Linked DNA regions of Homo sapiens. The protein of the gene in region 1 purifies or fractionates together with the protein of each later gene. This does not show direct contact. Each region holds a gene or a part of one and is shown in the gene's direction. Other genes may lie near its edges.

What was found.
Region 2: the proteins of KRABD3 (region 1) and TRIO purify together in Homo sapiens (co-immunoprecipitation; one large-scale study listed by IntAct). This does not show direct contact.
Region 3: the proteins of KRABD3 (region 1) and JPH1 purify together in Homo sapiens (affinity purification with mass spectrometry; one large-scale study listed by BioGRID and IntAct). This does not show direct contact.
Region 4: the proteins of KRABD3 (region 1) and SHCBP1 purify together in Homo sapiens (affinity purification with mass spectrometry; 2 studies listed by BioGRID and IntAct, with this or other methods). This does not show direct contact.
Region 5: the proteins of KRABD3 (region 1) and PPP2R3B purify together in Homo sapiens (affinity purification with mass spectrometry; 2 studies listed by BioGRID and IntAct, with this or other methods). This does not show direct contact.
Region 6: the proteins of KRABD3 (region 1) and CRIM1 purify together in Homo sapiens (co-immunoprecipitation; one large-scale study listed by IntAct). This does not show direct contact.
Region 7: the proteins of KRABD3 (region 1) and IFT172 purify together in Homo sapiens (affinity purification with mass spectrometry; 2 studies listed by BioGRID and IntAct, with this or other methods). This does not show direct contact.

What each region holds. Positions count from the first base shown.
Region 1 is NC_000007.14:149,724,951-149,728,450, forward strand, and holds part of KRABD3 (protein KRBA1), read left to right. Parts: intron 1-364; coding exon 365-538; intron 539-936; coding exon 937-1,110; intron 1,111-3,500.
Region 2 is NC_000005.10:14,286,342-14,289,841, forward strand, and holds part of TRIO (triple functional domain protein), read left to right. Parts: intron 1-529; coding exon 530-722; intron 723-3,500. UniProt on the Homo sapiens protein: Guanine nucleotide exchange factor (GEF) for RHOA and RAC1 GTPases. Involved in coordinating actin remodeling, which is necessary for cell migration and growth. Plays a key role in the regulation of neurite outgrowth and lamellipodia formation.
Region 3 is NC_000008.11:74,238,041-74,241,540, reverse strand, and holds part of JPH1 (junctophilin-1), read left to right. Parts: intron 1-3,500. UniProt on the Homo sapiens protein: Junctophilins contribute to the formation of junctional membrane complexes (JMCs) which link the plasma membrane with the endoplasmic or sarcoplasmic reticulum in excitable cells.
Region 4 is NC_000016.10:46,597,380-46,600,879, reverse strand, and holds part of SHCBP1 (SHC SH2 domain-binding protein 1), read left to right. Parts: intron 1-917; coding exon 918-1,049; intron 1,050-2,532; coding exon of another isoform or gene 2,533-2,594; exon of another isoform or gene 2,595-3,500. UniProt on the Homo sapiens protein: May play a role in signaling pathways governing cellular proliferation, cell growth and differentiation. May be a component of a novel signaling pathway downstream of Shc. Acts as a positive regulator of FGF signaling in neural progenitor cells.
Region 5 is NC_000023.11:341,908-345,407, reverse strand, and holds part of PPP2R3B (serine/threonine-protein phosphatase 2A regulatory subunit B'' subunit beta), read left to right. Parts: intron 1-3,476; coding exon 3,477-3,500. UniProt on the Homo sapiens protein: The B regulatory subunit might modulate substrate selectivity and catalytic activity, and might also direct the localization of the catalytic enzyme to a particular subcellular compartment.
Region 6 is NC_000002.12:36,354,291-36,358,577, forward strand, and holds the start of CRIM1 (cysteine-rich motor neuron 1 protein precursor), read left to right. Parts: upstream 1-1,487; 5' UTR 1,488-2,002; coding exon 2,003-2,333; intron 2,334-4,287. UniProt on the Homo sapiens protein: May play a role in CNS development by interacting with growth factors implicated in motor neuron differentiation and survival. May play a role in capillary formation and maintenance during angiogenesis.
Region 7 is NC_000002.12:27,448,244-27,451,743, reverse strand, and holds part of IFT172 (intraflagellar transport protein 172 homolog), read left to right. Parts: intron 1-1,647; coding exon 1,648-1,746; intron 1,747-1,943; coding exon 1,944-2,053; intron 2,054-2,181; coding exon 2,182-2,245; intron 2,246-2,363; coding exon 2,364-2,450; intron 2,451-2,712; coding exon 2,713-2,829; intron 2,830-3,500. UniProt on the Homo sapiens protein: Required for the maintenance and formation of cilia. Plays an indirect role in hedgehog (Hh) signaling, cilia being required for all activity of the hedgehog pathway.

The sequences.
Region 1 (3,500 bases):
GCCCCCTGGCCTTTCTTCCCAAGCAGTGAATCCCTTCATCCACAGCCTCCTCAGCCCAGGCCTTTGTCCAAGCCCCCGCTGCCTCGGGGCCTTCGTTTTGCAGTGATTCCTGGCCCTGAAAGCTACCCCTGCTGACATGTGGCCCTCCTCACTCCCCTCCTGTCTTCATGCCTTCCAGGGAGCAGGGTGGGGGGCGAGAGCCGATCAGTCTCCCACAGAAGGGTTTCCTGCCTGGCAGGTGCCAGAGCCTGGTACAGGACTCGTCACCCCTGTAGAAAGCACGTCGGGTAGAGCCAGCCAGGGGTCTGATGGGCAAGGCTGGAATGTGTGGGAGATGGTAACAGGGTGCTCTCTCCTGTTCCAGCTGCCAGTGCCTCAAGCTCACCGCTGGAAGCCCTGGAAGCCTGTCTGAAGGGCATTCCCCCAAATGGGTCGTCACCTTCCCAGCTGCCACCCACTTCTTGTTCCCAGAACCCCCAGCCAGGAGACTCTAGGTCTCAGAAGCCTGAACTGCAACCCCACAGATCACACAGTGAAGGTAGATTGTGGCCATGGGCGCGGGGTGGCATGTCCCTGAGCGTGGCAGCGGAGGCAGATGCTGAGGACTGTCGGGTCATTGTGTTCCCCGGCCTCCTGAGACACAGGCCCGTTCCCCCAGGCTGCCTTTCATACTCACTCCCAAACAGCCGCCCGCATGTGCTGAAAGCCAGTGCAGATCTTCCTGCCCTACTTCCTTCTCTCAGAACTCTCTCCAGTCACGAGACTCACTGTGGGGTTTCTGTGGGTCACGTGCTATGGGAGTTGAATCAGTGCCACAGGGAAACCCTAGTGGGAGATACTTTGGGGCAGGGTCTTCTGGTGCCCGTGCACCCCATGGCCCAGGAGTCTCTTCTCCAGTGAGCCTCCTGGTGACCACAACTGTGCTGTTCCCTACAGAAGCGACCAGAGAGCCTGTTCTGCCTCTGGGTCTGCAGAGCTGTGTGAGAGATGGCCCCAGCAGGCCCCTGGCCCCCCGAGGAACCCCCACCAGCTTCTCCTCATCCAGCAGCACCGACTGGGACCTGGATTTTGGGAGTCCTGTGGGGAACCAGGGGCAGCATCCTGGAAAAGGTGAGCTGGGCCAGCCCGAGGCTGGGGTTCATCCTGGGAGAGGACTCAAGGCCCCTTGCCCAGTCCCTCTGGCTTGACTGGGTCAGACCCCCATGCCCGTGCTGGGAGCAGAGCCAGGGATACTGAGGCAGGAGCAGATGCGGGACTTATCTTGGGTGGGTTGTGGGAGCCTAGGGTGGAGAGGGGGCTCCGTTTTAGTGACTTGTCTTAGAAGGGACAGGACAATGTCTAAGATTTCTTTTAAAATCTTTTTGGGCTGGGCACAGTGGCTCACGCCTGTACTCCCAGCACTTTGGGAGGCTGAGGCAGGAAGATCAGTTGAGGCCAGGAGTTTGAGACCAGCCTGGGCAACATAGTAAGACTCCGTCTATACAGAATTTTTTTTTTTTTTTTTTGAGACGAGTCTAACTCCTGTTGCCTAGGCTGGAGTGCAGTGGCACAATCTCGGCTCACTGCAACCTCCACCTCCTGGGTTCAAGCGATTCTCCTGCCACAGTCTCCCGAGTAGCTGGGGTTATAGGTGTCCGCCACCGTGCCCAGCTAATCTTTGTGTTTTTAGTAGAGAAGAAGTTTCGCCATGTTGGCCAGGCTGGTCTCGAACTCCTGACCACAGGCAATCTGCCCGCCTCAGCCTCCCAAAGTGCTGGGATTATGGGGATGAGCCACCGCGCCCAGCCTGTACAGAAGATTTAAAAAATTATCTGGGTGGAGTAGCACCTGTAGTCTGTAGTCCAGCTACTCAGGAGGCTGAGGCAGGGGATCACTTGAGCCCCAGCGTTTGAGGCTGCAGTGAGCTATGTTCACACCACTGCACTCCAGCATGGGTGACAGAGTGAGACCCCCATCTCAAAAATAAATACATAAAAATTTCCTTTTTGCATTGAATTCCTTACCCCAGCCACAAAGAATTGCCTGTAATATCAAACTGACCCCCAACTTAGGAAAACATACAGTGAGGTTCATGTCAGAAACATTTCAGCGTGTGCTTGGTGACCTGTGCCTCCCCGGCTCACTCCAGTCGAGTTGCTCCTGCAGACTTGGGGATCTTGCAGGACTCCAGCATCCCCTCTTGGCCTTTTTATTTCCCCCACCTGGTTAATCCGAGTCCTCTTGGTCTGTGTTGTCCTGCCGACACCACTCCCTCCGTGCTCACCTGTGTCCTGACTGCCAATGTATTTACTGAACAGGCCTCTCACAGCAGCCACAGCTCTGGCCAGGCCTGTGGGGCCTGTAGAACAGGCCTGGGGCCTGCCAGTGTCCACAGCAGCCTGAATTCCCAAGCCCCACTATGGGTTAGCCGCTTGGGTGTGGGGCTTTTCCCCTATAGTGCAACTGACTTCATAGGTAATATGATCACATAGCTTTGTTCAAAAGCTATAAAAGGTTATGTAGGGAAAATGAAGCCTTCGGCACTCCAGCCCCTCCTGCCACTGCTGTGAGTTCACTCCCCTCCTCCTCCTCACACAGAGGGCAGCATCTATACATGCCCCCTCCAGGCTGCCTTTGTCGTCAGCATTTGTCTTTGACCCCTTTCTATACTTTTCATGTTCCTTGGCCACTAGCACCAGTTTCTTCTTTTGGACAGCAGCGTGGTATTCGGTAGCATGCTTCATGTGTTCTGCCTGGGCAGACTTTGTTTACTAAGTAACCCAAACTGCAGGATATTTCACACTGCCTGTCAGAAGCTTCCAGCCAACTCCCGGCTCCCTCTGTTGCCCCAGAACTCAGCGAACGTGCTGTGGAGAAAATGCATGTGGGGGTCCTCTGGTTTCCAGCCCTTCCTGGTCTGGAAGGGCTGGTCTCTGCCCTTCCAGCCTGTGGACATTCAGAAGTTCTGAGGTTGCCCTCCCGCCCTGTGCCTGGGCCCAGAGTCGTCAGCAAATGCTGTCGGGAAAGAGAGTGGCAGCACTGTCTGCTTTATTAGGAAGGGCTCTCCTCACTCTAGAGTTTCAGTCCATCTAGTTCCTGTTACTCGCACAGCTGTCACTGGAAATAGGATGTTTGCAGTGTGTTTAGTTCTTTCCTAGTTGAAATTGCATGCATGTTGGCCCGCCATGGCCCAGAGGCCAGGGGGCCTGTGTTGTTGCCCTGCTGTGAGTGGTGAAGGAAGTCTTAGCACATTCCATCTGTGGGACCATCCCCTGTGCTGGGGACACAGGATGTGTCATCCCTCACGGTGGTGGCAGCTGGGTGTGCTGAGGAGGACTAGAGCCCACACCTGTGGCCAACGCCCTCATGACAGCCGCAGGCCAGGCTTCTATGTGGGTGGCCAGGACAGGCCAGGCTTCTTCCACGGCAGCCAAAGCAGGGCCGCGCCAGAGCCAGGACTGACACGTCCAGTGCTCTGTGCCCAGCACCCCTGTGACCCCCCTTCCCTGGACACAGCAGAA
Region 2 (3,500 bases), on another chromosome or scaffold:
AACATAAGAAAGTTCTCATCATTGCCAGCCATGCTAGTGGGGGGTCATTTTCAGCACCTGGGGTGCTGGGAGTCCTGGGGTAACTGCCGTCCACAGGTCTCAGACTGTCCCCAGTCTGGGTTTTGTTGCAGGCTGTCAGGGTTTTGTACTCACCCGATGCTCCCTGGAGACCTTTGCTCGCAGGAGTGACTGGAGGAGTTCATGTAATCAATTAATGCACCAAAGTCAGGAGAAATGGGCATGGTGACCGTTGTTTTCCTGAAAAGAAGACGGGATGCAAAACCATTAATACAAAATTGAAATCTTAACAGGTTTTGCAGGTTGAACATGAAGCGTGTATAGCCTGGGTCTCTTCCTTTATGGTACAAGGGAGGGACGAGAAGGAGCTGAGCACAGTGTGCTCCTTCCCCTGCCTCCGCACGTGTCCAGCAGGGGAGGGAAGCTGGGTCTGTGGCACCCAGTGGGACTCTGACCAGGCAGAGTGGCAAGAGATGTAACCCGTCTTCAGCCATGTTTTCTTTCTCTGCAGCGAGGAGGTCTGCAAGCGTGGCTTCACGGTGATCGTGGACATGCGTGGGTCCAAGTGGGACTCCATCAAGCCCCTTCTGAAGATCCTGCAGGAGTCCTTCCCCTGCTGCATCCATGTGGCCCTGATCATCAAGCCAGACAACTTCTGGCAGAAACAGAGGACTAATTTTGGCAGTTCTAAATTTGAATTTGAGGTAACTTCCCCCGTGTGGCTAGACCCACTAAACAAGTTGGTGTGGTTTACTAAAAGCTATTGAGGCTAATGAGAGATTTTTTTTTTAAACCACATATTAAACAGGAGCTGCATATCTTACGAACATGTGATACGTAAAATTAGTTACTGCATGAAATAACAGAGCTGCGTTCATCATCCGAGTGGATTGTTTTACCCACATGGGCTTAGGTTTCAGTTCCCTTGGGTTGGGTGATGGGCTGTTGAGTTGTGAGGCCTTGGCAGAGAAGCTTGCTGGCTGCCTTATATTTCACTTGACAAACAGCTTTACCAGGCAGCACTGTGGCTTTGCACAGTTACAGATTCATTCTCCTTGCCTCAGCCCTGGAGATGAGGGAATGTTAGGGAGAAATGCCCAACTTCAGAGTCCCTAAGTTTCATCCTGTCATGGATAATGGAAAGAATGCATGTATTAGGCCTCTGATTTCTGAAAATGGAGATAGTGTGTTAAAAACTGTGCAGAGTCCTGAATTCAGTTAGGCATGGAAGATTGCCGTCTTTCAGTGGTAAAAACAAGACAAAACCCTCAGCCCACTAATTATTTTGCTTCCCACTGTAACCTCCTCTCCTTAAGCTACCAAGGTTCTGACAAGGCCTTCGGTGCAGTTAGTTTAATGAGATGATTATGGGAGGAAAGTCTTCCTGCCAGCATGAAACTTGATTCTTGCTCCATTTGGAATAAGATTTTAATATTTTCTAATAAGAAATACTTTTTGGTTGAATAGATTGCTTCCTCTGGCAAATCTGCTCAAACGTTAGGTTTCAGTGGATGTATTCATGTATTTTAAGGTAAACAGCAATAATATTAAACATCAGACAGTGTTAATCCTTAATCTTCAGGTTATAATGCTATACTTTTCAAAGTGTTTGCACAGGTGTATTACTTGGATTTTTAAATTCTTTCCATAGTACTCATTTTTCTATCCAAAATATGAACTTAGTTTTAAATTTGAAACTACTCAGGTTTACTACACTCCATCAGAAAGATGAACCCAGTAAGCCTTTATCTTCATAGAGAATAGGAAGTAATTTTGGAGGACAGTTTATTGGGTGTTAATTATTTTCTTGATGCAGAATTGAAAGTGCATTGTATTTAATTATAAGTGTTTTAAGTAAAAATAATGGTCTGGCAATACAATTCATACAGGTTTTTCCAGTCCAGTTTTGATCTCTCCCTCAGGGCTCTTAAAGGCACCAGTTTTTCTATGGAACTTGTTACATTGTTACCAGCCTCTCTCTCCCCACCCAGTGATTGCCTCTGTGGAGATTATTAAAAGTCCAGCAGGACCGGGTGTGGTGGCTCACGCCTGTAATCCTAGCACTTTGGGAGGCCGAGGCGGGCGGACCACGAGGTCAGGAGATTGAGACCATCCTGGCTAACACGGTGAAACCCCATCTCTACTAAAATACAAAAAATTAGCCGGGCGTGGTGGCAGGCACCTGTAGTCCCAGCTACTTGGGAGGCTGAGGCAGGAGAATGGCGTGAACCTGGGAGGCAGAGCTTGCAGTGAGCCGAGATTGTGCCGCTGCACTCCAGCCTGGGCAACAGAGCGAGATTCCGCCTCAAAAAAAAAAAAAGTCCAGCAAACGAGAGAGGAATGGGCCTATGGTAGGATTGTAGGCATAAGTGCTGGATCAGGAGTCATCCCTCTTCTACCTCTGCTGCCTTCTGATGTTTCTTTTGCCAACCAGCACGCCGGACCAGCCCTTCTTGTTTTCTCTTTTGGTTCTAGGTCACAACTCTTTCTCCTTCACCTTTGTCTTTGCATTTAATCTTCCCCCTCCATGTTTTCCTTGAGGCATATTAATATTAATCTGCTTCACATCATGATAAGGTGAGGTTAAGATTTCTTGCCGAGGCCAGGCACAGTGGCTCATGCCTGTAATCCCAGCACTTTGAGATTCTAAGGGAGGAGGACTGCTTGAGGCTGGGAGTTCGAGCCCAGCCTGAGAAACTTAGCAAGAGCCTGTCTCTATATTTTGTTTTAAAAATTAGCCAGGTGTGGCCGGGCGCGGTGGCTCATGCCTGTAATCCCAGCACTTTGGAAGGCCGAGGCGGGCGGATCACAAGGTCAGGAGTTCGAGACAACCTGGCCAACATGGTGAAACTCCATCTCTACTAAAAATACAAAAATTAGCTGAGCGTGGTGTAAGTCACCTGTAATCCCAGCTACTCGGGAGGCTGAGGCAGGAGAATCACTTGAAATCGGAAGGTGTAGGTTGCAGTGAGCTGAGGTTGCACCACTGCACTGCAGCATGGGCAACAAGAGCAAAACCCTGTCTCAAAAAACAAACAAACAAAAATCACCAGGTGTGGTGGCACACGTGTAATTCCAGCTACTCAAGAGGCTTAAGATGGGAGGATGGCTTGAGCCCAGGAATTTAAGCTTACAGCATGTAATCATCGCCACACTCCAGTCTGGAAGACAGAGCATGACCCTTTTTTTCCTTTTTTAAAAAAAAAGGTCGTGTGCGATGTCTCATGCCTGTAATCCCAGCACTTTGGGAGGCTGAAGTGGGTGGATCATTTGAGATCAGGAATTTGAAACCAGCGTGACCAACATGGTGAAACCCCGTCTCTACTAAAAATACAAAAGAATTAGCCTGGTGTGGTGGTGGGCACCTGTAGTCCCAGCTACTCGGGAGGCTGAGGCAGGAGATCACTTGAACCTGGGAGGCAGAGGTTGCAGTAAGCTGAGACTGCGCCACTGCACTCCAGCCTGGGTGACAGAGCAAGACT
Region 3 (3,500 bases), on another chromosome or scaffold:
TTAGGATTTCTTTCTGTATTTTGATTTCCTGTTTTTTATTTTCTTACCACCTGGAAAATTTCTTCCAATCAAGACTTACCCTGTGCCCTGCTACAGCTTCTTGTATTACACCTGTCCCAGTCAGTCTTGAAAAGCAAGACAGATTTTTTTTTCATTTTGCTATTTTAAGCTACAACTGGCCACCACAGTCGTATTTATGAGACTTTACCTTAAAGCTTTTCACCCCATATCCTGTGCCTAGGTATATAAAGAACACAGAGGCCAGGGCTTGGTATCTGCCACTGAACAGAGCATCCCGGATTTTTATTTTTCCCCTGGTTGCTGTTTGAAGCTTTCATGTCTAGTTTTCCCTCATCTTCACTGAGTCACCTTTAAAAATAGCTTTCTAAGTGGAGCCACCCTGGTAGGATAAATATATATGTGTGTGTATATTAGAACATATACAGGAGAAATATGTGTGTGTGTGTATGCGTGCAAAAGAAAAAAATATATATGTATGTATTTTTCATTTTGGATAAAGCACTCATTCACTATTCATTGAATCTGGATTGCCAGTACAGTGATATGTGGGCTAAAAACTAGAGAAAAGATAGTAATCTAAATTCAAACCAAAAGAATATACAAATTCAAAATACTCACTAATTCAAAGGGGTTAGATAAATTCACAGAATCTTATATGGATTTATGAAATGGGAGTTAAGGTTCAGGCACACCTTGGACTTTAGAAGTTGGCTTCATGGAAGGCACGTTCTCTGCTATTTCACTTTCCTGGGTCCACTGTAAGACACCAAAGTCTATGTTGTATTGTTCTGACCAGGTGTATTTTTCCTCACCTTTCATATCACTAAATTACCTTTGAAAATTATAAAATAAACCCAGTAGCCCAGAATAGTTGAAATGATCCAAAATTCTTAAAACACTCATGAACAAAATCTAATCTAAGTGTGTAGTAGTACAGGTGGAACATCCAGAATGCTCCAACATCTGGTCATGATGTGAAGTGAAAGAAGCCAGGCACAGAAAGACAAACTTTGCATGTTCTCATTTATTTGTGGGAGCTAAAAATTAAAGCGATCACACTCATGGAGATGGAGAGTAGAAGGATGGTTACCAGAGGCTGGATGGAAAGTGAAGACGTAGGGGAGAAGAGGGGATGTTTAATGGATACAAAAAAAAAAATAGAACAAATAAGATCTAGTATTTGATAGCACAACAGGGTGACTGTAGTTAATAATAATTTAATTGTACCTTTTAAAATAACTAAAAGAGAACTGGGCACGGTAGCCCACACCTGTAATCCCAACACTTTGGGAGGCTGAGGCGGATGGATCACTTGAGGTCAGGAGTTCAGGACCAGCCTGGCCAACATGGTGAAACCCCGTCTCTACCAAAAATATAAAAGTTAGCTGGGCATCGTAGTGAACACCTGTAGTCCCAGCTACTCGGGAGGCTGAGGCAGGAGAATCACTTGAAGCCAGGAGGCAGAGGTTACGGTGAGCCAAGATCGCGCCACTGCACTCCAGCCTGGGTGACAGAGCAAGACTCCACCTCAAAAAATAAAATAACTAAAAGAGTATAATTGGATTGTTTGGAACACAAAGAATAAATGCTTTAGGTGTTGGATACCTCATTACCCTGATGTGATTATTACACATTCTATGCTGGTATCAAAATATCACATATATACCATGTTACCCACAAAAATTAAAAATTTTTTAAATCTCCAGAATCTGAAACTTTTAGAGCACCAACATGATGCTCAAAGGAAATTCTCATTGCAGCATTTTAGAATTTTGTATTCGGGATGCTCAACCTGTACATCAGAAGAAAATCTGAAACCCCAAACACTTAGGGTCCCAAGTGTTTCAGATAAGGGATGCTTAGCCTGTAATAATATTTCCTTAATCTCTGTGCTCAGTTGTGACATTGAAAGATCGTCTCCACTATTTTCTGAGTTATAAGAGTTTTCTGCATTATTTCTATGCTCTAAATTAACCATAATTGAGGAGTTGCACAGGTTAGGACTCTCCTATCAATTTAGAATTACAACTATTCTAAAAGAGCAGTTGGTCGTTATCACAATTTGATGTTTTTCTGATACTGTGGAAATTATAGGATATAGAGGAAAATGTCATTTTAAAGGACTGAATGGGAAATTGCCTTTAAACTAAGGCCTGTATCTTTAATAGACATATAGAGAAAAGAGCATGGAGCTCTGAAGTGACCAGACTAAAGCTTAATTCGAGTTCCAATTTGTTCAAACTGGCTGAGGAAACTTGAGCAAGACACCTGTCCTCTTAAGCTCTGTAAAATGGAACTAATAATCACTTGTGAAGAATAAACAAAAAAAAAAATCTCAGAGATGTTTAACCCACTGCCCAGCATTATAAAAACCTGCAAAAAATGTTTATTTTCCTCCCATTTACTTGGGGTTTAGGAACTGATGCTTTTCTTCTGCCTAATAGTCCCCACTTAAAGGGGACTCATGTTTACTTCCTCTCCCTCCCCCATTTTACTCATCACCCTGTTTGTTCTTCATTTAATTCAGTGATTTAATCCATTTCGTTTAACAACCCACATTTGGGTCAGGCACTGTGGTACACGCCTGGAATCCCAGCACTTTGGGAGGCCAAGGTGGCAGGATCGCTTAAGGCCAGGAAGTTGAGACCAGCCTGGGCAACATAGTGAGACCTCATCTCTACAAAAAATACAAAAATTAACCAGGTTTGATAGCACGCACTGTTGGTCTCAGCTACTCAGGAAGCTGAAGTGGTAGGATAGCTTGAACCTGGGAGGTCAAGGCTGCGATGAGCTGAGATCACACCACTGCATTCCAGTCTGGGTGACAGAGCAAGAGCCTGTCTCAAAACAAAACAACCCACATCCACGGCACTTGGAAATGTGCTGGAAGATAGTAGAGTCTCATTAAATATTGGTTGCCTGAATGAATTGGGCAATGTCACGTGTCTGTGCACTGGGTACATAGCAGTGAATAAGACAAGGCCCCTGCCACTGTGGAGCTCAGAGTCTTGTGGGGGAAAATAGCAGTTAAACAACAAAGGATAATCAAGTGTGAAACGCCTTGTGATAGAGAAAGAGCAGGGCACTCTGACCTCTACCACGGAGATGTGGGCTCAGTCAGGGAAAGAGACCTTCTTGAGTCAATGATGTGTGACCCAAACCCTAGACCCGAATTGATTAGTGTTTGACCAATGACAGCTCCAATCTCCATTATTCACTTACCCCACACCCAAAAAACATCAATACTTTTGAGGCCTCTGTAACATTGTTTCAGTGTAGTCTTACCCAGTATCCAAATGGAGTACCACTGTTTCCTCTTCTGTAAAATGAGGACAATAAAACTACCTACCTCATAAAGCCAGTTTAGAATACTTTTAATGCTATATAAGAATTAGACATTATTTTAACAGTAAATACCACAATCATGTCTTTGTAATAAAGGTGGCTTCTTCATGGAGCAGATCTGAAAAGATGGGTTA
Region 4 (3,500 bases), on another chromosome or scaffold:
TGCCACACTCGGCTAATTTTTATATTTTTAGTAGAGGCAGGATTTCTGTATGTTGGCCAGGCTGCTCTTGAACTCCTGACCTCAAGTGATCCACCTGCCTCAGCCTCCCAAAGTGCTGGGATTACAGGCGTGCGCCACCGTACCCAGCCTTGATCTGATGCTTTTTATTTGTTAATGAGGTAGACTGTTTTTTTCCTGTAACTGTAACTAGTCAGTTTGTCAGATTTTAAGCCAACTGTTTAAGAGAATATTAAAATTAGATCATCTTGAGAACTGTTTAGGTTTATTCAAATGTAATTTATATTAGAATCATAGAATGTTAGAGTTAGAAACAAACTTCTAAGGGTGAGTGCTTTAAAGTTCTTTGACTCAGCTGTAAGTCCTTATTATTATTATTATCATTTTTTGAGATGGGGTCTCATTCTGTCACCCAGAATGAAGGCTGGAGTGCAATGGCATGATCATAGCTTACTGCAGCCTTAAAATTCTGGGATCAAGTGACCCTCCCACCTTAGCCTCCTTGAGTAGTGAGTAATTGGTGCATGCCACCATGCCTGACTAATTTTTTTGGTTTTTGTAGAGATGGAATCTCACTGTGTTGCCTAGGCTGGTCTTGAACATTATTTATTTTTTATAGCACTTTTGAAAGTGAATTTAGTACTGAGCTGATGTGGGATAGTTGATAGGGTAGTCTTCCTGATACGGGACTAGTCAGAGAGTTGTTATTGTTAAAAATTGGATACCCTGATTTAAATTAAACAGGATATGTGGGGAGATAGATTTTATTTAAATGCAACATGGTTGACTGGTCTCATTATCATCTGCAGTCATTTAAACTAGAGAAACTTGTTCTACAGTGTTCACGTTTAGATGTTTTTCCTCACCCATCTTGAGTGTTGTTGCTCTCTCTTCCTTAGGATATGGCCTACCAGATGACATTGTGATAGAAAAGAGGGGCAAAGGCGACACTTTTGTGGACTGCACTGGTGCTGATATTAAAATCTCAGGCATAAAATTTGTTCAGCATGATGCTGTAGAGGGAATCTTAAGTAAGTATCTGAATGTTTGGTATATCATTTGTTCTAAGATTTGAAGGTAAACGGTTCTCTCTATGGAAGATAGAATTTAATGAAATGCCACTCTTGAGTACAGGCATACCTTGTTTTATTGCACTTCACGATGCTGAGTTTTTTTTTTTTTTTTTTTTTTTACAAATTGAAGGTTGTGGCAACCCTGTTTCAAGCCAGTCTGTCGGCACCATTTTCCCAAGAGCATATGCTCACCTTGTGTTTCTGTGTCACATTTTGGTAACTCTCACAATATAGATAATATGCTGATCTGTGAACAGTGATCTTGATGTTACTACTGTAATTGTTTTGGGGTGCCATGAACCACATCCATAAAAGATGGTGAACTTAACTGATAATTGTGTGGGTTTTGACTGTTCCACCGATCAGCCATTCCCCTATCTCTCTCCTTCTCTTTGGGCTACCCTATTCCTTGAGACACAGCAATATTGAAATTAGGCCAGTTAATAACCCTACAATGGCATCTATGTGTTCAAGTGAAAGGAAGAGTCACATGTCTCTCATGTTAAATTTAAAAATTAGAAATGTTTAACATAGTGAGGAAGGCATGTCGAAAGCTGAGATAGGCTGACACCTAGGTCTCTTGTGTCAGTTGGTGAAGTTTTGAATGTAAAGGAAAAGTTCATAAAGGAAATTAAAAGCACTACTCTAGTGAACACATGAATGATAAGAAAGTGAAACAGTCTTATTGCTAATATGGAGAAAGTTTCTGTAGTCTGGATGGAAGATCAAATCAGCCACCACATTCCTTAAATCAGAGCGTATTGCAGAGCAGAACCCTAACTTCCTTCAATTCTGTGAAGACTGAAGGAGGTGAGGAAGCTGTAGAAGAAGAGTTTGAAACTAGCAGCTGTTGGTTCATGAGGTTTAAGGAAAGCAGCCATTTCTGTAACATAAAAGTGCAAGGTGAAGCAGCAAGTGCTGATGCAAGCTACAGAAAGTTAACCAGAAGATCTAGCTAAGGTAATCGATGAAGGTGGATACACTAAACAACACATTTTCAGTGTAGATGAAATAACCTTCTATTGGAAGAAGATTCCATCTAGTACTTTTCATAGTTAGAGAGGAGAAGTCAGTGCTTGGCTTCACAGCTTCAAAGGACAGGCTGACTCTCTTGTTATGAGTGAATGTAACTGGTGACTTTAAGTTGAAGCCAGTGCTCATTTACCATTCTGAAAATCCTAGAGCCCTTAAGAATTATGCCAGATCTACTCTGCCTGTGCCCTAGAAATGGAACAACAAAGCCTGAATGGTAGCACATCTGTTTATAATGTGGTTTACTGAATATTTTAGGCCCATTATTGAGATTTACTACTGAAAAAAAAAATTCCTTTAAAAATATGATTGCTTATTGACAATGTACCTGGTCATCTGAGAGCTATGATGGAGGTGTACTGGGAGATTAATGTTGTTTTCATGCCTGCTAATAATATCCATTCTGCAGCCCATGGATCAAGGAGTAATTTCGACTTTCAAATCTTACTATTTGAGAAATACACTTCCTAAGGCTATACCAGCTATTGATAGTGATTCCTCCGATGGGTCTGGGCAAAGTCAATTGAAAAGTTTCTGGGAAGGAGTCATCATTCTAGATGTCATTAAGAACATTTGTGATTCATGGGAGGAGGTTAAAATCTCAACATTAACAGGGGTTCTGGAGAAGTTGATTCCAGCCCTCATGGATGATTGAGGGGTTCAAGACTTGAATGGAGGAAGTAACTGCAGATGTGGTGGAAATAGCAAGAGAACTAGAGCCTGATGATAGCAAGTAGAACCTCAAGACGTGACTGAATTGCTACAATCTTATAACAAAATTGGAACAGATGAGGAATTGCTTCTTATGGATGAGCGAAGAAGGTGGTTTCCTGAGATAGAATTTCCTGGGGAGGATGCTGTGAACATGGTTGAATGACAACAAATGATTTAGAGTATTAGGTAAACTTGGTAAAGCAGAGGCAGACTTTGATGGGATTGACTCCAATTTTGAAAAACCTTCTACTGTGTGTAAAGTGCTATCAAACAAGATCACATGCTACAGAGAAATCCTTTCATGAAAGGAAGAGTCAATCAATGTGGCAAACTTCATTGTTGTCTTATTTTTAAAAATTGCCATAGCCACCTTAACCTTCAGCAAACACCATTCTGATCAGTAAGCAGCCATCAACATTGAGGTAAGACCCTCCACCAGCAAAAAGATTATGTCTTGCTGAAGGCTCAGAGGATTGTTAGCATGTTTTAGCAAAACAAAGTATCTTAAATTAAGATGTATATATTGTTAAAAAACATAATGCCTTTGTACACTTAATAGATGCATTATAAACATAGTACTCATTAGTATAAACTCATATGCTCATTAGTATAAACACAACTTTTATTTTTTTTTGTTTTTAGAGACAGTCTCACTGTCATCTA
Region 5 (3,500 bases), on another chromosome or scaffold:
CTGCAGCTGCCTCTCCTTCGCACTCGCCGCTCTGTGTCTGCAGCTGCCTCTCCTTCCCCAGTCGCTGCCCCGTGTCTGGGTCCCCGCGTGCGCCTCTGCCCGAGGCCTCTGCCTGGGGGCGTCTACAGGGTCAGTGTGGGCCGCTGGTCCTGAAGCTCCTGGCCCGAGGGCCAGCAGCGCTGTGGGGCTTCCTTGTTAACACCCGAGCAAGGGCGGGCAGGCCACACGCCTTCCCTCAGGAGCTCCAGGTTCCAGCCCCCAAGGCCTGGAGCAGTTTCCATCCAATCCCGGGCTAGGTGGAGCCCCAGGCTTAGCGGTCGTTCATATACCTCCGCGGGAGCCGGTGCCGCCCAGGTGTCCTCACAGCAGCCACTGCCTCCCGGCCCCTCTAAGAGTCATCCACACTTGCAGGAACTCAAAGCGGCCTGTGGCCTGTGGGGCTTGAGTTTTCTAAAGGATTCCTTTAAGTGTGCTTTTTACCCCAAAAAACCATATGACCAAGACTGTTTCCGAATTACGGTGGCATCTGTTGTGTGTGGTCGACTCATAATACGCCTGGTTCCCCGAACGTGAGCTGCACCCGTCTGCGTCTCCCGGGGCTGGTCCTGGGTCGCGTGGCCGCAGTAGATCCCTGCGTCGGACGCGCACCTGAGCAGACGTAGCATTCCCTGGATTTGTCCTGCGCTCAGTTCAGGGAGCCACCTGCGCCCTGGGCCCCTAACTAGCCACGAGGAGAGCACAGCTCCACAGCGCCGGCCCGTGTGGCCTGGGCCAGCACCTGCACAGCTGGGAATCGGCCCAGAACCAGGCGCTCACTGTCCCTGTGAACCCCCGGCCCGGCGCGGCCCCAGCTTTCCGCGTTCCTCTGGAGCCCACTCTCGGTCCCAGGGCAGGATGCCGTGTGCGGCCGGGCTGCGCTGTTTCTCACGCACTGCGGCCTGAAGCGGGGGGCGGCACCTTGGCTCGTGCGTCCCAGGGACACCGGTGACCGCAGGGATGGCCGCCCAGGCTGCGGGACCTTCTCGTGGCCCAAGCTGACGGCGACGGTGCTTTCACTCCTGCCTCCCGTTGGTGAGGTCTCCCTCCCGCCTCCCGTTGGTGAGGTCTCACTCCGGCCTCCCGTTGGTGAGGTCTCACTCCCGCCTCTCCTTGGTGAGGTCTCACTCCGGCCTCCCGTTGGTGAGGTCTCAATCCCGCCTCCCGTTGCTGAGGTCTCACTCCCGCCTCCCGTTGGTGAGGTCTCCCTCCCGCCTCCCGTTGCTGAGGTCTCCCTCCCGCCTCCCGTTGGTGAGGTCTCACTCCCGCCTCCCGTTGGTGAGGTCTCCCTCCCGCCTCCCGTTGGCGACGTCTCCCTCCCGCCTCCCGTTGGCGACGTCTCCCTCCCGCCTCTCCTTGGCGACGTCTCCCTCCCGCCTCCCGTTGCTGAGGTCTCCCTCCCGCCTCCCGTTGCTGAGGTCTCCCTCCCGCCTCCCGTTGCTGAGGTCTCCCTCCCGCCTCTCCTTGGTGAGGTCTCCCTCCCGCCTCCCGTTGCTGAGGTCTCACTCCCGCGTCTCCTTGGTGAGGTCTCCCTACCGCCTCCCGTTGCTGAGGTCTCACTCCCGCGTCTCCTTGGTGAGGTCTCCCTCCCCCCCTCCCGTTGCTGAGGTCTCACTCCCGCGTCTCCTTGGTGAGGTCTCACTCCCGCCTCCCGTTGCTGAGGTCTCACTCCCGCCTCCCGTTGGCGAGGTCTCCCTCCCGCCTCCCGTTGGCGAGGTCTCACTCCCGCCTCCCGTTGGCGAGGTCTCACTCCCGCCTCCCGTTGGCGAGGTCTCACTCCCGCCTCCCGTTGGCGAGGTCTCACTCCCGCCTCCCGTTGGCGAGGTCTCACTCCCGCCTCCCGTTGGCGAGGTCTCCCTCCCGCCTCCCGTTGGCGAGGTCTCCCTCCCGCCTCCCGTTGGCGAGGTCTCCCTCCCGCCTCCCGTTGGCGAGGTCTCCCTCCCGCCTCCCGTTGGCGAGGTCTCCCTCCCGCCTCCCGTTGGCGAGGTCTCCCTCCCGCCTCCCGTTGGCGAGGTCTCCCTCCCGCCTCCCGTTGGCGAGGTCTCCCTCCCGCCTCCCGTTGGCGAGGTCTCCCTCCCGCCTCCCGTTGGCGAGGTCTCCCTCCCGCCTCCCGTTGGCGAGGTCTCCCTCCCGCCTCCCGTTGGCGAGGTCTCCCTCCCGCCTCCCGTTGGCGAGGTCTCCCTCCCGCCTCCCGTTGGCGAGGTCTCCCTCCCGCCTCCCGTTGGCGAGGTCTCCCTCCCGCCTCCCGTTGGCGAGGTCTCCCTCCCGCCTCCCGTTGGCGAGGTCTCACTCCCGCCTCTCCTTGGCGAGGTCTCACTCCCGCCTCCCGTTGCTGAGGTCTCACTCCCGCCTCCCGTTGCTGAGGTCTCACTCCCGCCTCCCGTTGGCGAGGTCTCACTCCCGCCTCCCGTTGGCGAGGTCTCACTCCCGCCTCTCCTTGGCGAGGTCTCCCTCCCGCCTCCCGTTGCTGAGGTCTCCCTCCCGCCTCCCGTTGCTGAGGTCTCCCTCCCGCCTCCCGTTGCTGAGGTCTCCCTCCCGCCTCCCGTTGCTGAGGTCTCCCTCCCGCCTCCCGTTGCTGAGGTCTCCCTCCCGCCTCCCGTTGGCGAGGTCTCACTCCCGCCTCCCGTTGGCGAGGTCTCACTCCCGCCTCCCGTTGGCGAGGTCTCACTCCCGCCTCCCGTTGGCGAGGTCTCACTCCCGCCTCCCGTTGGCGAGGTCTCACTCCCGCCTCCCGTTGGCGAGGTCTCACTCCCGCCTCCCGTTGGCGAGGTCTCACTCCCGCCTCCCGTTGGCGAGGTCTCACTCCCGCCTCCCGTTGGCGAGGTCTCCCTCCCGCCTCCCGTTGGCGAGGTCTCCCTCCCGCCTCCCGTTGGCGAGGTCTCCCTCCCGCCTCCCGTTGCTGAGGTCTCCCTCCCGCCTCCCGTTGCTGAGGTCTCCCTCCCGCCTCCCGTTGCTGAGGTCTCACTCCCGCCTCCCGTTGCTGAGGTCTCACTCCCGCCTCCCGTTGCTGAGGTCTCACTCCCGCCTCCCGTTGCTGAGGTCTCACTCCCGCCTCCCGTTGCTGAGGTCTCACTCCCGTCTCCCGTTGGTGAACCTTTGGTTGAAACGTGTTTGTTTCCGTGATCACACTCGAGGTCTCTCTCTCCGTCTGAAAGCTGTACCTTTGAGGCCTGAATATTCTGCTCTTTACAAGTCGGTCTTGGAGCCGCGGTCAGCTTTGCGCTCTGTGGATTTCATGCTGGACTTGGCTCTGCTCGACGGGAAAGCGTGGTGGGCCCCTAGGATGGGCCGTGCAGGGGCATCGGGGCCCCGGGGCTCTCCCAGACCCAGGCGTCCTCTCAGCTTTTCGGTCCCCACCGCATCCAGTCTCGGCTCCGGGGGGTGGTGACGTCGGGGCCGAGGCACGGTGCGGGCTGCCCATCAACCGCATTCCTTTCCAGCCCTTTCTACCAAGATGATAGACA
Region 6 (4,287 bases), on another chromosome or scaffold:
GAGTGGTTAAACTAAAATATTTATCGTAAGTATGAATTTGTTCCACAAACATAACATTTCAAAGGTAGCTTTGTTTCCTCTTTCCTTGCACTGCCAGCTATTAACTTTCGGTTCATTAGTCACGATTTTCAGAATCCACTTGGCTGCCACCTTCCTGCAGCCAGACCATCTTGGATCAGAGGGTGGGCCAGCCATTCCCACGTCACACCTGCCACGGGATCGATTTTTTCCCCCATTGACCACAGTCACTTTTTGTCAATTAATTAATGTTATTCACCTGGTACCCATCTTGTGAATGGTAGGTCACTACGGAGCGGATTACTACTTCATATCCCATCAATGACAGAGCCATCATTACGAAAACCTTTTCTGACAACCACTGAAGAGAAACCATCTCCACACCGTGCATTTTGCATCACTTCCGTTGCTTCTTTACCTGATTTATCACAAAGACTATGTACCACACATCTTCTTTATTAATGCATTGACAATCAGTGAAGACAATGAAAACCCACCACTTTTGTCCGTGAACTGAGAAAGAAAATGGCAATGTCATATGGCATTAATGATGCATGAGATCTATGGGTGTAGTGTCACGTCTAGGCGTGTAGTAATCCAGTCTTCGGCCTTACTCCAGGGAGAAAGATTCAGCTTTGTTACTTTCCAGTCACTCTCTCCCGTAACACAGCACCTTGGCACAGAAAGCAGAGCGACAAAACCCAGAATGAGGACAGTTAAAATTCAACTCAAGCTACAGCCATCCCAACGGTCCTCCCCAGCTCCCGCGGAATATTTACCAAGACCGTTTAAAGCACTTAATTAATTCACTTCAGCTTCGCTGGAGAGGTCTCAGGGTTCCCGAGACTCCATTACATAATATCTTTCACAAAGTCTATTCCCAGCTCGAATGGAAGATGGATTCTCATCCAGTGTGCGGAGGTTCCATGCCTTTGCTTCCCTTTCCCGGAGTTCGATCCGGCGATACCCTCCCGAGGCTGCAGCCATCGCCCCGGCCCCGAGCTTCTGGGGTACCCGCCACTCTTCGAACTCCAATCTGGCCCCGAAGGTGCAGCCGCCTCGCCCTCCTGGCTCCCAGGCCGGCCGCTGCGGCCACGGTGCCAGCGAGCGCCCGGGACACCGCGACTCTCGCTGCTCGCTGGGTGCGCCCCAAGCCCATCCGCAGCGCACCCGCGGCGCCGGGGCCAGAGCCGCAGCTCGGTGGCACGGCCGGCTCGGTGCGCCGGGCTCGGGGAGGAGGAGATCGGGAAGAGGTGGAGGCGTGTGAGGGAGGGAGGAAGGGCCCGGCCGCCCGAGAGGGGGAGGGGGAGGCGGAGGGGGCCGGCCGGGCCGGGGAGGGGGGGCAGCCAATGAGCGGCGCGCGGCGCGTGGGGGTGGGGGGAAGGTCTGGGGGAGGAGGTAGGATGGGGGAGGGCGCAGCCCGAGCGGCTGAGGCTCCAGCCATAAACAAGCGCCCGGAGGAGCGGCGCAGGAGTGAGGCGAGCGGGGCGCGCGGAGCGGACGCCGCGGATCTTGTGCTGCGCCACCGCGCCCACTCGGCAGCTCGGGAGGCGGGGACCGGCCCGGAGGCTGCGCCGCTGCGGGGCCGGCCGACTCGGAGGAGGAGAGGGAGGAGGCGCCGCCGGCCCGGGCTGGAGCCGAGCGCAGCAGCCACCGCCGCCGCCGCGCCAGAAGTTTGGGTTGAACCGGAGCTGCCGGGAGGAAACTTTTTTCTTTTTTCCCCCTCCCTCCCGGGAGGAGGAGGAGGAGGAGGAGGGGAAGCTGCCGCCGGCGCCAAGGCTCGTGGGCTCGGGGTCGGCGCGGCCCGCAGAAGGGGCGGGGGCCTCGCCCCGCGAGGGGAGGCGCGCCCCGGGGGCCCCGAGAGGGGCGGTGAGGACCGCGGGCTGCTGGTGCGGCGGCGGCGGCGCGTGTGCCCCGCGCAGGGGAGGGCGCCCGCCCCGCTCCCGGCCCGGCTGCGAGGAGGAGGCGGCGGCGGCGCAGGAGGATGTACTTGGTGGCGGGGGACAGGGGGTTGGCCGGCTGCGGGCACCTCCTGGTCTCGCTGCTGGGGCTGCTGCTGCTGCTGGCGCGCTCCGGCACCCGGGCGCTGGTCTGCCTGCCCTGTGACGAGTCCAAGTGCGAGGAGCCCAGGAACTGCCCGGGGAGCATCGTGCAGGGCGTCTGCGGCTGCTGCTACACGTGCGCCAGCCAGAGGAACGAGAGCTGCGGCGGCACCTTCGGGATTTACGGAACCTGCGACCGGGGGCTGCGTTGTGTCATCCGCCCCCCGCTCAATGGCGACTCCCTCACCGAGTACGAAGCGGGCGTTTGCGAAGGTACGGCCGCCCGCTGCGGGCCCCCTCCCACCTGGCCTGCGCCGCCCCCTCGGCGCTGGTTGTGCCGAACAAAGTTTGGGCGAGACTTTCTGGAGGAAAGAGGGCTCTGCGGGAAGAGGGGCGGCCGCCGCCCCCAGGAGAGTGCCCCCGCGGCCCTGCGTTCCCTCTCCTTGTTCCCCCCGACGCTTAGGCAGTCGCGGGCGAGGTTGGGTATGGTGGGTGGGGGCGAGCGAGTGGAGGATCGCCCCTGTCCCCGCGCAGACGCGCACACGTGTGGCCGTTCCTGCTGGGACTGGGTGGCCCGGCCTTGCTCCCCGAGGTGGGGGCGCCGCGGGCGGGGGGCACTGCAGATTCTGCCGCGCGCGAGCCCCTCGGGGAGCCCGGCCCTACCGCCCTCCCCGCACTGGCGCAGTGTGGCACCGTGAGCCGCACGCCGGCCGCGAAAGTCCTTTTTCTGTTGGCGGAGGAGACGTGTCTCCAGCTCGCACTCCCCGAGTGACTCTTATTATTTTTTCCTTGAGCTCTTCCTTCACCCCTTCCTCCTCCTCCGCAGATAAATCAGTTTCAGCCGCGGAATATGTCAGCCCAGGGGAAGTTACACACGGTGGTTACTCATTTATTTGCCCATTGTAAACGGTCAAAGGCTTTCTCTCCTGAAAGGAAAGGGGGGTGGGGGTTGCACCTGGGAGTAAAAAGTTGTTGCTATTAGTGGCTGCTTTTTAATATCAGATACCCGCGTGTTTCCTGTCGTGTTGCCGGTTCCTCCTTTTTGTTTGTTTGACAGCGGGGATTGTTCTGCTGGCTTCTCCAGCACGCATTGTGCTCCGCGGTGTCGAGATTGACGGTGGGAGAAACAGATTAGATTAGTGGAGTCTTTCTCGTTGGGGAGCCAATGTTAGTGCGTGTTGGCTTTAATCCCTGCCCGCTTGCGTCGGCCTTCAGGGTGCCTGGTCTGGTTTGGGGTCTAGAGCGAGGCAGTGAGTTATTTTGATGTGGCTAACGGGGGCACGGTTCGGTAAGCATCAGTTAAAAGTGGGATCCCTGCTCTGGCTGACGTTGGGCTGATGATGCTGTTCCGGGGGCATCCTGGCGAGTGAGCAGAGCGCACGCAGCAGCCTCGTTTCTGGGGAGGCGGCGAGGAGGGACAGGCGCCCTCTGCCCGGCGTGCCTTCCTCACTACTCACAGCCAGCACCGTCCAGGGAACGGTTTATTCCGAAGCATCTTTGTGTGTGTTTGTTTAGTATGCTGGGATACTGAAAAAGGAGGTGACAGCCTTAAGGATAACAATGGACCTATTAAAAGGCTTCAGTGCTGTGATTCTCTCTAAATACGCACAGACACACACATAGGTACTTATTTATACCTGAATAGTTTGGGGTTTGGACAGTTCAGGAAAATAGGGGAGGGTTTTCTGGTTTGGAAGCTAGTGGGCAGTGATGAGTGAAGGGAACTCTTCTCAGAGGGGAGGGACTTGCTCTTGCTTTGCTGCACACGTAAGACATTGGGTTAGAAGAGATCATTTGCCTGAAGTACAAAAAAGCCTCTCACCTGGTATTGTCCCCTTTTATAACTTGTTTTTATGCCTTACCTCAAGAAAAATGGCCATGAGATTAACTTCTGATACCATTGTATGTGTTTTGACTTTGGGAATTCTGAATGACCTAGACTAAAAGATGCATCTTTGAACCCTGCCGCTTCAAGTGTATAACTTAATCCGGCCTCTCGTAAATCTGAAAAGAACAGGCGACATGAAACACAGTTAAATGCAGTGGAAACTGCTGTGTTCCAAGAAGGACTTTTGCAGGTTCTGAAGATTCTAACCCTTGTTTTGTTTCTTCTTAGTCTGTTTCTGGTGAAGGAAGTGCTCAGGGAACATTTACAGTAATCGAGTGTTGTGGCAGCAATATCCCATGTCACAGTATAGAGTTATTTTGGCAGTTTCGTGAGCCTTTC
Region 7 (3,500 bases), on another chromosome or scaffold:
CCCAGGCTGGAGTGCAGTGGTGCAATCTCGGCTCACTGCAAGCTCCGCCTCCTGGGTTTAGGCCATTCTCCTGCCACAGCCTCCTGAGTAGCTGGGACTACAGGTGCCCACCATCATGCCGGGCTAATTTTTTTGTATTTTTTTAGTAGAGACGGGGTTTCACCGTGTTAGCCAGGATGGTCTCCATCTCCTGACCTCATGATCCACAAGCCTTGGCCTCCCAAAGTGCTGGGATTACAGGCGTGAGCCACCGTGCCTGGCCTTTTGAGGTCTTAAAACTCAATAACCCCTAGAAGTTAGAGGGAGAGAAGTAGAAAGAGAGGGGCTGATGATTGGTTTTGAGGTTCTAGCAGATTTTAATCAGCAGTATTGAATAAGCATCTGATATATGTAACTTGGGAGCATGGCATGACTGTACCTTTTTCAGATTAGTCAGAAAATGGCTTCCTGATGCAGACAGGGCAGATTAAGCTTTGAAGGGCTTGGCAGTAAGAAAGGGAGGCAAGAACAGGTGAGGGAAAGACCAGAGGGGATTAGCATAAACTACAGTGAAATTGGATTGTGTGGAAATTGAAATCTGGTAAGGATGTCAGCATCATAATGGAAACAGAGTGATCTCATTGAACACTTGGGTTTGTAGAATTTCTGAGTTTTAAGTGTTGAAAGGTTATCATCAAGACCATCTATACCAGCACTGGCACTAGAAATATAATGCAGGCCACAAATGTAAGCCATACATGTCATTTAAATTTTCTAGTAGCCACATTTAAAAAGAGTAAAAAAAAAAAAAAACAGGTAAAAATAATTGTAATATATTTTATTTAACACAGTATATCTAAAATACACCATTTCATCTGGGCGCAGTGGTACATGCCTGTAATCCCAGAACTTTGGGAGGCCACGGTGGGCAGATCACTTGAGGATCAGGAGTTTGAGACCAGCCTGGCCAACATGGTGAAACCCCATCTCTACTAAAAATACAAAAATTAGCTGGGCATGGTGGTGGGTGCCTGTAATCCCAGCTACTCAGGAGGCCAAGACAAGAGAATTGCTTGAACCTGGGAGGGAGAGGTTGCAGTGAGCTGATATTGTGCCACTGCACTCCAGCCTGGGCGACATAGCAAGACTCTGTCTTAAAAAAATTAAATAAAATACTACCATTTCAACATGTACTCACACACATTATTTAGATATTTTCCATTCTTTTTTTATACTAAATCTTCAAAATCCAGTGTGTGTGAATGAAGAAACAAGTTCATAAAAGCCCAACACAAATAGTTACAGAATGCCCTGGACTCCTTATTTTAGGAGTCCTTTCTCTGTACTCTGCTACGAAGATTTTACTTATGACAAAGACCTTGAAAATGATTTTGTCAAAGGCGGAAGTTTCAAATGCAGTGACCTCAGGCAGCGCAGGAAGTATCTGAAAGAGTTAATGAACTGAGAGGAAAGATAGGTCCACTGATGGCTAATCAAAGGATCTAATGGACCATGAGCCAGGTTTTGCCCAGGAGGGTGCAAGGTTGAAGGGGAGAGTAAGAGAAAAAGTTGGCATCTGGAGGAGAAAAATGTATGAAATGGATGAGGCTGAGGACTCAGCGGTATTTGTCTCTCCTACCCATTTCCATCTTCTGTTCAACCACTCAGGCAGCTGAACTCTCCATCAAGTTTCTGCCTCCCCAACGTAATATGGAAGTCGTTCTGGCTGTAGGACCCCAGCTGATTGGAATTGGAAAGCACAGTGCAGTAAGTAGGATGCTGAGATGGAACAGAAATAGATTTCACAGAGATGGGTGCAAGGGTGACATCTACACCCAGGAAGGTGTGTGAGGTGGGCCTCCTGGTGGGCATGGCTTGCAGTCCTGGGGAAACAGATGGGAGAGCTCACAGTGGGAAGACTGGGAGCGAGGAGAAAGTCTCCACGCTGATTTCCCACTGTGCAGGCTGCAGAGCTCTATCTGAATCTGGACCTTGTCAAGGAAGCAATCGATGCTTTCATCGAGGGTGAGGAGTGGAACAAGGCGAAGCGTGTAGCTAAGGAGTTAGATCCCAGGTAAGCTTGTAACCCCTTCTTACTGCGAAATTCTCTTTTACTTCCTTTTGTAAAGACTGGGAGAAAGTCTTACCGGGAGGGTTGGTATTCTGGAACATGAAGATGGAGCTCTCTGAACATCTTCACAGGTATGAAGACTATGTGGACCAGCATTATAAAGAGTTCCTCAAGAATCAGGGCAAAGTGGACTCGGTGAGACTTGGAGAGTTAGCAGGAGGCAGAATGCAGGGAGAGACTCACAAGACTCTCTCCCTCTTCTTTCCCTCATGTCATCTCTTTTCTCTTGTAACTCTGTCTTCCATTGACCCAGCTGGTGGGTGTGGATGTGATAGCTGCTTTGGACCTGTATGTGGAGCAGGGCCAGTGGGACAAGTGCATTGAAACAGCTACCAAGCAGGTACTGCTCTCTTCCCATTCCCAGTTTTTCTTTACATTTTCCCTTGATTCCCCACCTGCCTCAAAGATGCATCTCTTCTACCTCCACAAAAACCCAAAGCCCAAAGATTTCTAATGGGCATCAGAGAAGCTCAGTCTGAAACTGGGGTCAGAGGTTTGCGTACACCCTTTTTCCCCTCAACAAATACATGGCCTCAAGTCACCTCACTGCTTGGTCTTGCCGATCCCAGCCTCACTCATGCTTTTCCTCCACCCCTGTACAGAACTACAAGATTCTGCACAAGTATGTGGCTTTGTATGCAACTCACTTGATCCGGGAGGGTAGCTCTGCCCAGGCATTGGCCCTGTATGTACAGCACGGAGCCCCTGCTAACCCACAGGTACCAGCCTTCTCCTTGGGTTGAATGTTTCCACAAGAAAGCTCTTTCTCCTCTAGAACCACCTATCTTCTCAGGAACTATCTTCTCAGAGGATTCTATCCTTAGAGAACGTCATGCCCAGAGCCCCCCACGCATCTCCAGAAATGTACAGCCTCTCTGGAGGCTGTGTATTTGCTAAGAGCATGGGGAGGTTTGCAGAAACTTCCAACTTCTGTTTGAAGAAACACCCGTGGAGCTCCCCATGCTGTTAGCAAATACACAGGCACCTGTCTTTCAGAGATGAATCCTGCATACACCTCTAGGGCCTTTATTGACTTCCTCCAGAGAATGAACACTGCTCCCTGATCTGAGTCACAATGTTGTGACTCTGCATTTACATTTGTACAGTTGCCCACACTCACACAGCACCAGCTAAGAAAGTTATTTCTTCCTCTTTTCTCTTTATCAAAAATAATCAGCACTTAAAAATAATTTACTTCATTAAAAATAATCAGCACTTAATAATCTGCCACTGTTGGCCGGGCGCAGTGGCTCACGCCTGTAATCCCAACACTTTGGGAGGCCGAGGCAGGCGGATTACGAGGTCAGGAGATCGAGACCATTGTGGCTAACACGGTGAAACCCCGTCTCTACTAAAAATATAAAAAGTTAGCTGGGCGTGGTGGCAGGCA